Linked DNA regions of Homo sapiens. The protein of the gene in region 1 interacts with the protein of each later gene in a pairwise test. Each region holds a gene or a part of one and is shown on either strand. Other genes may lie near its edges. The genes, in order: TMEM222, ELOVL4 and SLC10A1.

Region 1 (2,527 bases):
ATGGGCAACTGCCTTGGTCTCTCTTAGCCACAGCTGTCTCTGGTGAAATGCAGGCAATGATTCCGGCTCCTCAGGGAGGCTTCTACGGATCCCTGTGCTCCGGTAAAGTGAGCAGATAGATCCTCTCATAATGACTGCCCCACAGGTCCCTTCCTAGGCAGAGAGATTGAGTGAGTCGCCCATGGTCGCCACAGCATGGACACAGCAGAGCCCAGACTCGTGAGCCAGCATAGGTTAGTGCTGATCTGGCCGCCTCTCCAAGCTTTCCTCTTAGCCACGTTCATCATTAAGAGGTTCTGAAAAGAAGACTTTTAGGGATATTTTTAAGTACTGCATGGCTTTTAGAAGTCCCCTGAGAATAACTGGTCACACAGAGGTTGAACCCAGACCCCTGGCTCCCAGCTGCTTGGCTCCAGCCACAACACTGCTGACCCTTGCCAGCCCCAGAGCTCCCAGTAGTCCCCATTATGAAGTCCATAGGCAGAGGGCACACGTGGCTTCCATACCCAAACTGCAATTCCTGGTCCTCTTGCTGGAGACCCTAGAGGTAGGTGGCTATAGATGGAGCCAGTGAGGCCTAGAAATGGGGAGCATGTTTCCTGTTCCCAACCAGCGAGGTGTCAGTAAATCACCAGGAGCGCGGAGCAGCCCCTGCCCGGGACCATAGCTGGTGATCCCCCATAGTGGGCAACCATGCCCAGCCTGCTTCCTTGATTGGCCAAGTTTGGGGTGAGGGGGTGGTTGGGTTTTCCTTAGGGATGGCAGCCCTATTGGGGTCTGTGGGTGCTCAGGGCTGCGGGCCGCATGCCTGCTCACCAGGCCCTGCCCACCTATGCTCGCTCCTTTCTCTCTGTCAGCGTTGGGGCCTTCGTGAAGACCTGGCTGCCCTTCATCCTTCTCCTGGGCATCATCCTCACCGTCAGCCTGGTCTTTAACCTCCGGTGATGGCTGCTCGGTGGCCCCACACCCACCAGGGTCCCGAGGAAACAGCCGCCATCCCTTTTGGTTCCAGATTTTTTTCTCCTCACCCCAAAAGGCAGGGTTGGGCCTGCTGTTGTGGACCGGGGGTCGGGGCTGGCAGGATGGAAGGACTGAGGACCAGCATGAAGTGGGGGTTTGTTGTCTCCCTGCCTCTCAGAAGCACCCTGTCCCCTCCTCCCCAGGCCTGTGACTCCGGCCCTGGAAGCCCCTTTGTTCTTCTGTTGAAAGGCTTTGGCTTCCCGCTGTAGAGCTGCTCCCGCCACCACCTGCTGGGGTCCTGCCTCAGCCCAGTGCCCAGTATGGGGAGAGGAGGACATTTGGGCTCACCTGTCAAGGTGGCCCTGGGACCAGAGCTGGTCCCAGCATGGGGTGCACCGGGTACACTTAACGTGTCTCTATAAGCCAAGTTGCTTCAGGACCTTCACCACTGGCCTCTAGAATGGTCCAGAGGGGCTGGCTGGGTCCCTTTGTCAGACTCCTGCCGGCAGCTGCCCTGGGGGACATGTGTGCCCATCTGGCATCCTCCAGCCCGTGCAGTCCGCTCTTCACTGTTCCACGGCCTCCCAGTGCCTCCCAGCATTGGACCCATCTCCCCCTGCAGTTTGAGGCCAGAGAGGTGAGTGGACCTGACAAGTGCCAGAGTAACCGTGTAGACAGAGCAGTGTAGACAGCACTCAGCCCCAGCCCCAGGTGTGGACCTCATGCTGGTGATGGCTCCCCTGGGTGGCCTGCCAGCACAGCCAGTGCCATCAGGGAGCTGAAGGGGCTGTCCCCCACCTAACTCCAGCTCCCCCTTCACGTTGTCACCAAGGCCCTGTGCCGCCCGCCTCGCCCCCCTGCTCTGTGGATTCCTTTGGGAAGGGCTCCCTGGGCAGGACAATAAAGAGTTTTGACTCCAGTTGGTGCCCTGTCATTGTTTTCTCCCTCTCTGGGGCCCCCTTGCCCCTTAGCTCATAGCGTCTTGGTATTCTTGGGACCCTATTACCCTTGACAAGGGTCTAGTTGCCAGCACCATGGTTGAGTCTGCGTCCAGTGCCTGGGGCCATCAGCATCCCTCAGGTATATCCCGCCCCTGAAGTCTGGGGATTCCCTGCCATTCTCCATTCCCCATTCCAAAGCTTTCCTCTTGAGGCAGGTGGGCATTGAAACCCCTTCCATCGTCCCTGTTGGGAAGGACTTGTAGGCTTGGGGTTAGGGCTGAGTAGAGCCTCCACTGCTGTCCCCACCACCCGCCGGGGTACAGAGTTGGGGATGAGCCAAGAGCACTGCCAGCCTCTGGTCACTGTATCCATCCAGCCTTCGCTTGCCTCCGATCCTTTGCTCTCCACCATCCCTCTCATGGCGGCCCTGCCTAACCAAGGCCCAGCTTAAAAGCCGCTTCCTCCCTGAAGCCTTTCCCAACCCTGTCCATGCATCACTTCAGTTGAACTAGCCAAGGATTTGGTCTTGAACGTGGCCTTGAGGACATGCTCTAGCAGCTGGCCATGGGGTCCCTGGTCAGGCATCTGCCAGCTCACCCCAGACCCTGCAGTGCTGTGGTCTGCAA
Region 2 (3,658 bases), on another chromosome or scaffold:
AAATCTACAGAGATATTCCAGTCAGTCAAACTCAATGACATTCTTTCTTTTCAGAATATTAATTTAATCAAGGTATAGATGTAATAATAATTAATTTTTGTCATAAAGTGATCTAAGTCAGTTCAGATTTACTAATTTTCTTTTAAAATTACAGAAGTTGCCTTTAACTGTATTGTTTTAAACTGGGCCCCCAATAATATATGTATGAATTCCTAAGCTGCCAATTATCATAATATGACAATGGAAAGCAGCAAGGTGAACTATACTATAATGACTTGTACCCTGGATCCTCCTCAGAGGAATAATCTGCATCAAGCTCAACAATGTGAATCATCCTTAATCTACAGGCATCTGAAAAGACAGGAGGCAGATCTTGGCCAAGCTATGAATTTAGATCCTCTTTAACATTAACAAGGCTATATAAAATTTCCTTTGAATAAGAACCAACAAGACCTATACAGGCTGAGTATTCCTTATCCAAAATGCTCAGGACCAGATGTGTTTCTGATTTCAGATTTTTTTAAACTTTGGAATATTTGCATAGACATAATGATGTGTCTTGGGGATAGGACTCAGGTCTAAATCCAAAACTTCATATACACCTTATACATGTATCCTGAAGGTAATTTTATAAAATTTTAAAATAATTTTATGCATTAAACAAAGTTTGTGTACTCTGAACATCAGAAAGCAAAGATGTCACCCGTGTGGACATTATCTGTGGTTGTTTGGCATCAACATTATGCTGTACATGGAAAAGGGCTAAGAGGGTCTTTTTTCCCTTAGGTATACTGAATAAAGTGTGTTCTGCACTTGTGTTTTGACTGTGACCCATCACATGAGGTCAGGTGTGTAATTTTCCACCTGTGGTATCATGCTGGTGCTCAAAAAGTTTTGAATTTTGGAGCATTTGGATTTCAGATGTTTAGATTAGGGATGTTCAATCTGTATTAGGGCAGGAGTGAGCTATGGGCTAAGATGGAAATCTTCAGATTTGAGGGGCTGTGTCTTGGTATTCTTTGGATCAGAACTACTAGACCCGTTCCCCATCAAAATATTGTTTTCTACCTTTAGTCTTGGTTTATGCTCATCTCTGGGGCAAATCTTTAGGTATTAAAGTAGTCACAGATAAAAAGCAAAAGTTATACTTGCCTCAAATTTTTTAAAAAATGAAATGATGGCTGGGTGTGGTGGCTCATGCTTGTAATCCCAACACTTTGGAAGGCCGAGGCAGGCGGATCACAAGGTCAAGAGATCGAGACCATCCTGGCCAACATGGTGAAACCCTGTCTCTACTAAAAATACAAAAAATTAGCTAGGCGTGGTGGTGTGTGCCTGTAGTCCCAGCTACTCAGGAGGCTGAGGCAGGAGAATCGCTGGAACCCGGGAGGTGGAGGTTGCAGTGAGCCGAGATCGCGCCACTGCACTCCAGCCTGGTGACAGAGCGAGACTCCATCTCAAAAAAAAAAAAAAAAAAAAAAAAAAAAAAGAAATGAACATGGAAATGATTAACCATGAAAGCAAGTTAAATGGTAGATCAAGTCAAAGTCCTAGGTTCTCATTGCTTTCCACTGAACACATATATGCAATTAAACGCAAGCAGTATATTCCTGAAAATGCTCACCTTGTCCTCCTGCAACCCACTTAATTCCAATCCACCACAAGGTAAACATCGTACAGTGATGATACACATGAAGGAAAGAAACTTGGTTGTTTTTCTTTCTCAGAATAAAAAACACTGTGTCCAAATACTCAACTCCTTTAGATACAAAGTACCACCACAGAGCAGCAGCTATCTGTAAAAAGGGAAAGCGTGTTATAAACACCAAAATGACACTATTGTATGGGTTTATACTCATTGTAAGTAAGTCCAAAATAAACATTTGTATATTGCACAAAATGTACAAGGCATGGAATCATTAATGGCTAAGTAGGTTTGAAAAACCTAAGCATCTCTCCATGGGGAAAAATAGAAAAGAAAGAGTCCAAAGCTCTATCTATACAGTGCCAATAAGTTAGAGAACATTTTCTGTCTATTCCATAGGTAGATGTTACATAGTGTCAAACTGCTGAATACAGAGCTGGAAGCACATTCAGACTGCTGTGCTTTTCAACTTGGTAGAGGAACTAAGATGTTTACTTTGTAAAATGATTTTAGTTGTTCATGCTTAGCCTACATTATACTACCTCAGAAAAACTTGCAAGTAAGTTCATGTAGCAACTGGTCTCTACAAGTGTCTGCCTGTCTGCCCACCCTCTCCCCTCACCTCCCTCTCTCCCTCACCTCTCCGACTGCACCAATATGTGCAACAACATAAATATCCAATCACAGCAGTTTGTATTAGGTATTAAATCTTTAAAATAAAAAATTGGAATGAACAAACAAATATTTCCCAGGTCATAAATATAATCCTGCTTACATGAATAAGTCTTTTCTTTTCCTGGGCTCTAATTAAGGCACCAGATGGTACAGAAAGATTACATTACATACTGAGATTAAGGATCCAGTGAGAGGTGACCTCTGTATGTTTTAAAATGTTTTACAAGAATCCTACTGTAACAGTAAACCAAACTTAATTTTTTATGTCAAGTATTTTCTATGATAAGCATCCTATGTGCAAATAACAATTAAGGCAGTACATAACTAAAATCTATTTATAAGCTTTCATGTGTTAGGGCCCTGTCAGATTCATTCACAGACAGGCTTAGGTGTTTTAGAGTTGAAGGATCCCTTTGCATTTTATACCTGCACCTGGTATATGTCATGAGATTTTTGTTTGTTTTGGCTTTTGCATTTGAAAAACAAAATTATAATTTTAAAGTATGGGGAAAGAAGAAACAGAAAGCATATAAGAAACAAAGTATTTACAAACTGAGAATTATTTACTGAATTTACTTGAAAAATATCATTAAAAATGATATGAATTGGTTGAAAATAAGCTTGAAATAGTTAACTACTCCCAGCAACACTATAGTTAATATTCACTATTATATTAGTTCTTTAAAATAAAGTAACTGTCACCATTTTGGCATCGTAACCTTTAACTAGAAGGAAAGATACAATCTCTTATTTCTCCTCTATCTGGACCTCTACATTTGCCACAATTCACATAAAATAACAACAAATAAGTCTGCTTAGTTTGCAAACTGCACTAGATATCTTTAAATAAACTACACCAAAAAGTGATACTTCTTGGCTACGTAACAATGAATACAGAAATGAGTCTCTGCGTAAAATATTCACTCTATTGCATCCCATATTAGAGAGGAGAAGAGAGCACGAGGAAGATTTCAAATGAAATCTGTTGCAAATCTCAGGTTCTTTATCCTCCTAGATTACAGTTCTCATAATAGCTCATTTTTTAAAGACTTGAAAATTTACATCTGTAAGTGAGAGTGGTATTTTTAAACCTTTATCCTAAAAATAGTAATATGTTGCCCCACCCAAGGGTTTTTCTATGCATACTCCCAGAAGTCAGTCAGTCAAACACTTATCCCTGTTCCCTTCCCTACGGCAAGCAAGAAGTCAGCCCTCCAACTGAAGAGATTCTTTGGCAATAGTTATCAGAAGAAAATTTTTCATAGCCAATACATCTGAGTAGTCTCTCATTTTCTCTCAGTCACCTTCTAGGTTTTATTTCCTCCTTAGTCATTTGTT
Region 3 (3,658 bases), on another chromosome or scaffold:
ATCCTAGGGGGAAGGAGTCAATGAGAGGCTTTAAGCAGTGGAGTGACATGATAGAGTTTGTACTTCACATCTTCACCCTCAGGTTAGAACTGGGTGAGGAGGTTGGATGAGAAGGCCATTTGAGTTGTCTAGTGAGAGGTAAGGATAGAGAGGAATGAATGGATTCCAGCAACAGAAGGTGGAATCGACAGTCATTGATTAGATGGGTGTGAGTGGTGAGGGAGAAGGGAACATTGAGAATGACTTCCAGTTTCTGGTTGGGGCAACTGGGCACACACACAGTGCCACCGACTGAGATAACCACATGGGGAGGAGATGACTTTAACATATATTGAGTTTTAAATGTCTGAGGTATATTCAGATAGAAAGACCTGGTAGATAATAAATGGATTCTGGAGTGAGGATAGAGTTGACATCTGATGATGCTGTTCTGGAAGTCTCGGTTTGCAGATGGTAATTGCAGACCTGAGAGGGACCAGATCCTGTGCTGGGAGAGGTCTGGTGAGAAAGGCAGAAAGCTTGGTCTGAATGCAGAGAAGTGCCTTTGACCAGAGGAACTCATAAGGGAGTCTGAAGGTCATGAGAGGTAGGAGGAAAGCAGCAGAGCTTAGAGTCACTAAAGCTGACAGAGAAGGCTTTTGAGGAGGCAGTGGTCAATTATGTCCAATGCTGCTAGAAGGTCAAGGAAGGATTGAGAAATGTCCATTGGATTTGGCAAAGAAAGTGGAGCAGGTGGTCATCAAGATGCTGGGTGGATGGGAGACCAAGGAGAGAAGAGAGGGATTCAAATAATGGAAACGAATTGCTGAGGGCCTGGTCACTCATGAGAGAGCTCTGGCGGTGGCATGGGGGAAATGGAAGGTGTTTGAGAGGAAGCGATTGACAGAGAGAGAGAGGAGTGAGGGGGACTACTCCTAAAACCTGGCTAGGAAGGAGAGCAAAGGGAGATATTAGGTGGAATGGGAGGTGGATTCCACAAAAAATCCCAGTGAGAGACACTTTTTGTTTTGTTTTTTGAAGATAGAAGATATGTGAGTTCGTATCAAAGCTGATTGTGAAGAACCAATACAGAGATATTTTAGAAATGAGAGAGAGGGGAGGCTGCTGGGCCAGGGGCATAATCAATAAAAGGAGGTCTCTTGAGTACAAGGGTAGAGAGAATGATTGCAATCCAGGGCTGAGGTGGGGTGACTGGCCACAGAAAGGAGGAGGGATGATTCCTCCATGTCCTCCAGCAGGCGGGAAGGGGAGCTGTGGCCATGGCACTGGGACAGGACAAGGGCAAAAACTACTCTTGAGACAATGGTAGTGTGAAAATAAAACCCCCCTGAAAACTGGACTCTTGACTTCTTTGTTCCAGGCCCAAAGCTGCTGCCAAACTTTGGGGTTCTCAGCAGCACGCCTTGCAGACCAGGCCAGAGGCATTGATCCAGGGGCAGAGATGGTACAGGAGGTCAGGAGGTCAAGTCCTTCCTGAGGACCAGGATGACCTCCTGGCCCTGGGGGATGAATAGTGAGCCAAGGGGGAGGCTGGCAGGGACCAAACTCCAAGGTTGAAAATATTGGTGGAGAGACCATAGCTGCACTCTAGGAGTTCTGCACACAAAGCAGTGGCATGATGCCCTGTCTGTGACCACAGTGCTTCTCAAAACCTTTGTGGCCTTAATTCACTCCACTTCCCACCCCATCCCTCTCTTGAAATGCTGGGAATGGGTACACTACCTGTCTCCTCTAGCTTCTTGCCACATCAGCCAAATTTGCCCTTAGTGCCTGCTGAACTCTATTCAGGCTTCTCCCCAGGTTTACCTAAATGCCTCAAGCCCTTCCTTTTTAATAAGGCTCTTTGACCACTCCAGCCCTCACTGTTCCCATCTCCTTGCCTTCTGCAAATACTTGCGTGTACACTGGAATTGGATCTTGTTTCTCTCGTGTGTTACTTCATTTTCTTTCTTTTCTTTTTTTTTTTTTTTTCGTTTTAGAGATGGAGTCTTGCTCTGTGGCCCAGGCGGGAGTGCAGTGGCGCGATCTCGGCTCACTGCAACCCCTGCCCTCCCTGGTTCAAGCGATTCTGCTGCCTCAGCCTCCTGAGTAGCTGGGATTGCAGGCACTCGCTACCATGCCCGGCTAATTTTTTTTTTTTTTTTGTATTTTTAATGGAGACGGGGTTTCGTCATGTTGGTCAGGCTGGTCTCAAACTTCTGACCTCAAGTGATCCACCCGCCTCAACTTCCCAAAGTGTTGGGATTATAAGCGTGAGCCACCACGCCAGCCTCATGTGTTACTTCACTTTCTGCAAATATCAAACTCTGGTGACAGTGAATCCTTAGAGTGCATAGCATAAAACTTAGCATCTAGTAGGAGCATATGTATGTTTATTATTAATATAATGATTATATCTTATAGTTGTATATGGTGTTTTTACTCTTTTGCCCTAATTTGTCAAGCCTCCCAGGTTCTTACCTTGATGACATAGCGCATGTATTGTGGCCGTTTGGATTTGAGGACGATCCCTATGGTGCAAGGAATGAGAACCAGGACCAGTGATATCACGATGCCTTTATAGGGCACCTTGTCCTTCAGGTCCCCATCATAGATCCCCCTGGAGTAGATGTACAGGAGGAGAGGCATCATGCCAAGGGCACAGAAGGTGGAGCAGGTGGTCATCACAATGCTGGTGGGAGACATGGGAAGAGGGGAGAGAGAGAGAGCCCATAAATACAGACTATTTTGTTGAGTGCCTGCTAAGTGCCACTGTGCTAAGTGCTTGACATATGTGGCTTCAGTTCCTTTTCCCCATAACATTAGGCAGTAAGCATACTATCTTCTTTTCGCTGACAAGGAAGCTGGGGACTAGAAGAGTTGTGTCCTGCTCAAAGTCGCACAAGGTAGTAAGTGGCCAAGGCAGCATTTGAACTTAGGGTGGTTCAACTGCTTCAATCCCTGTGTGCTTCATTGTGGAAGGAGCCATTCTGATCTCCTTCTCTGTAATGGAACCCTTTTCGCATTGAGCACCTCCCCCATGCCAAGCCCATTTTGTAGAAAGCCAACTGTGTGATTCCATTACTCTGGTCATTAGCCCATTGGACCATGGAATGGCACCTGACCCACAGTTACTAAATGTCTGGTTTAGAGCCTAGGGAATGGCTTCTTGTAGTGACTTTGTCCAACGGAGACAATAACAATTAGCTATATCAGCACATTTTACCTCGTGGGGAGTCTGAGTGTGAGACACAGTGACAGGACACTTGGTCTTTGGGGATGGGTGGCATGGGAGTGATGCTCAGGCAGAAGTCAAAAACCCTACTAGAAAAATCAATAAACAGATACCATGATTAAAAGGACTGTAAAAGAAATAGTGAAGCAGTAAGAAACAGAATAATTGAAGGGCCATAATGGTGGGGTAGTAGAGAAGGCAGTAATAGATACCCATGTTGAGTAAGTGACAAGATAACCTGGTCAGATTTGCTTTGCATCTTGGATAGTATTCCAGTCCCCAACTCTGGTGTTCTCATGTTCTTTACTTTCTGGTTCCTCTTGATATTATTTAAAATAAATTATGACACTCAGAGCCTGAATAATATGTCCTTCCAGCTCTAATATGTATCCTACTTGTCCAATTTCCTTTTCCATTTGGAATCTTATATATGTTAGTCCCAGG

What was found.
Region 2: the proteins of TMEM222 (region 1) and ELOVL4 interact in binary tests that used the Homo sapiens proteins (3 or more experiments, as listed by UniProt).
Region 3: the proteins of TMEM222 (region 1) and SLC10A1 interact in binary tests that used the Homo sapiens proteins (3 or more experiments, as listed by UniProt).

The regions. Positions count from the first base shown.
Region 1 is NC_000001.11:27,334,522-27,337,048, forward strand, and holds the end of TMEM222 (transmembrane protein 222), read left to right. Parts: intron 1-145; exon of another isoform or gene 146-233; intron 234-857; coding exon 858-945; 3' UTR 946-1,879; downstream 1,880-2,527.
Region 2 is NC_000006.12:79,920,001-79,923,658, forward strand, and holds part of ELOVL4 (very long chain fatty acid elongase 4), read right to left. Parts: intron 1,797-3,658; coding exon 1,625-1,796; intron 1-1,624. UniProt on the Homo sapiens protein: Catalyzes the first and rate-limiting reaction of the four reactions that constitute the long-chain fatty acids elongation cycle.
Region 3 is NC_000014.9:69,783,637-69,787,294, forward strand, and holds part of SLC10A1 (hepatic sodium/bile acid cotransporter), read right to left. Parts: intron 2,672-3,658; coding exon 2,461-2,671; intron 1-2,460. UniProt on the Homo sapiens protein: As a major transporter of conjugated bile salts from plasma into the hepatocyte, it plays a key role in the enterohepatic circulation of bile salts necessary for the solubilization and absorption of dietary fat and fat-soluble vitamins.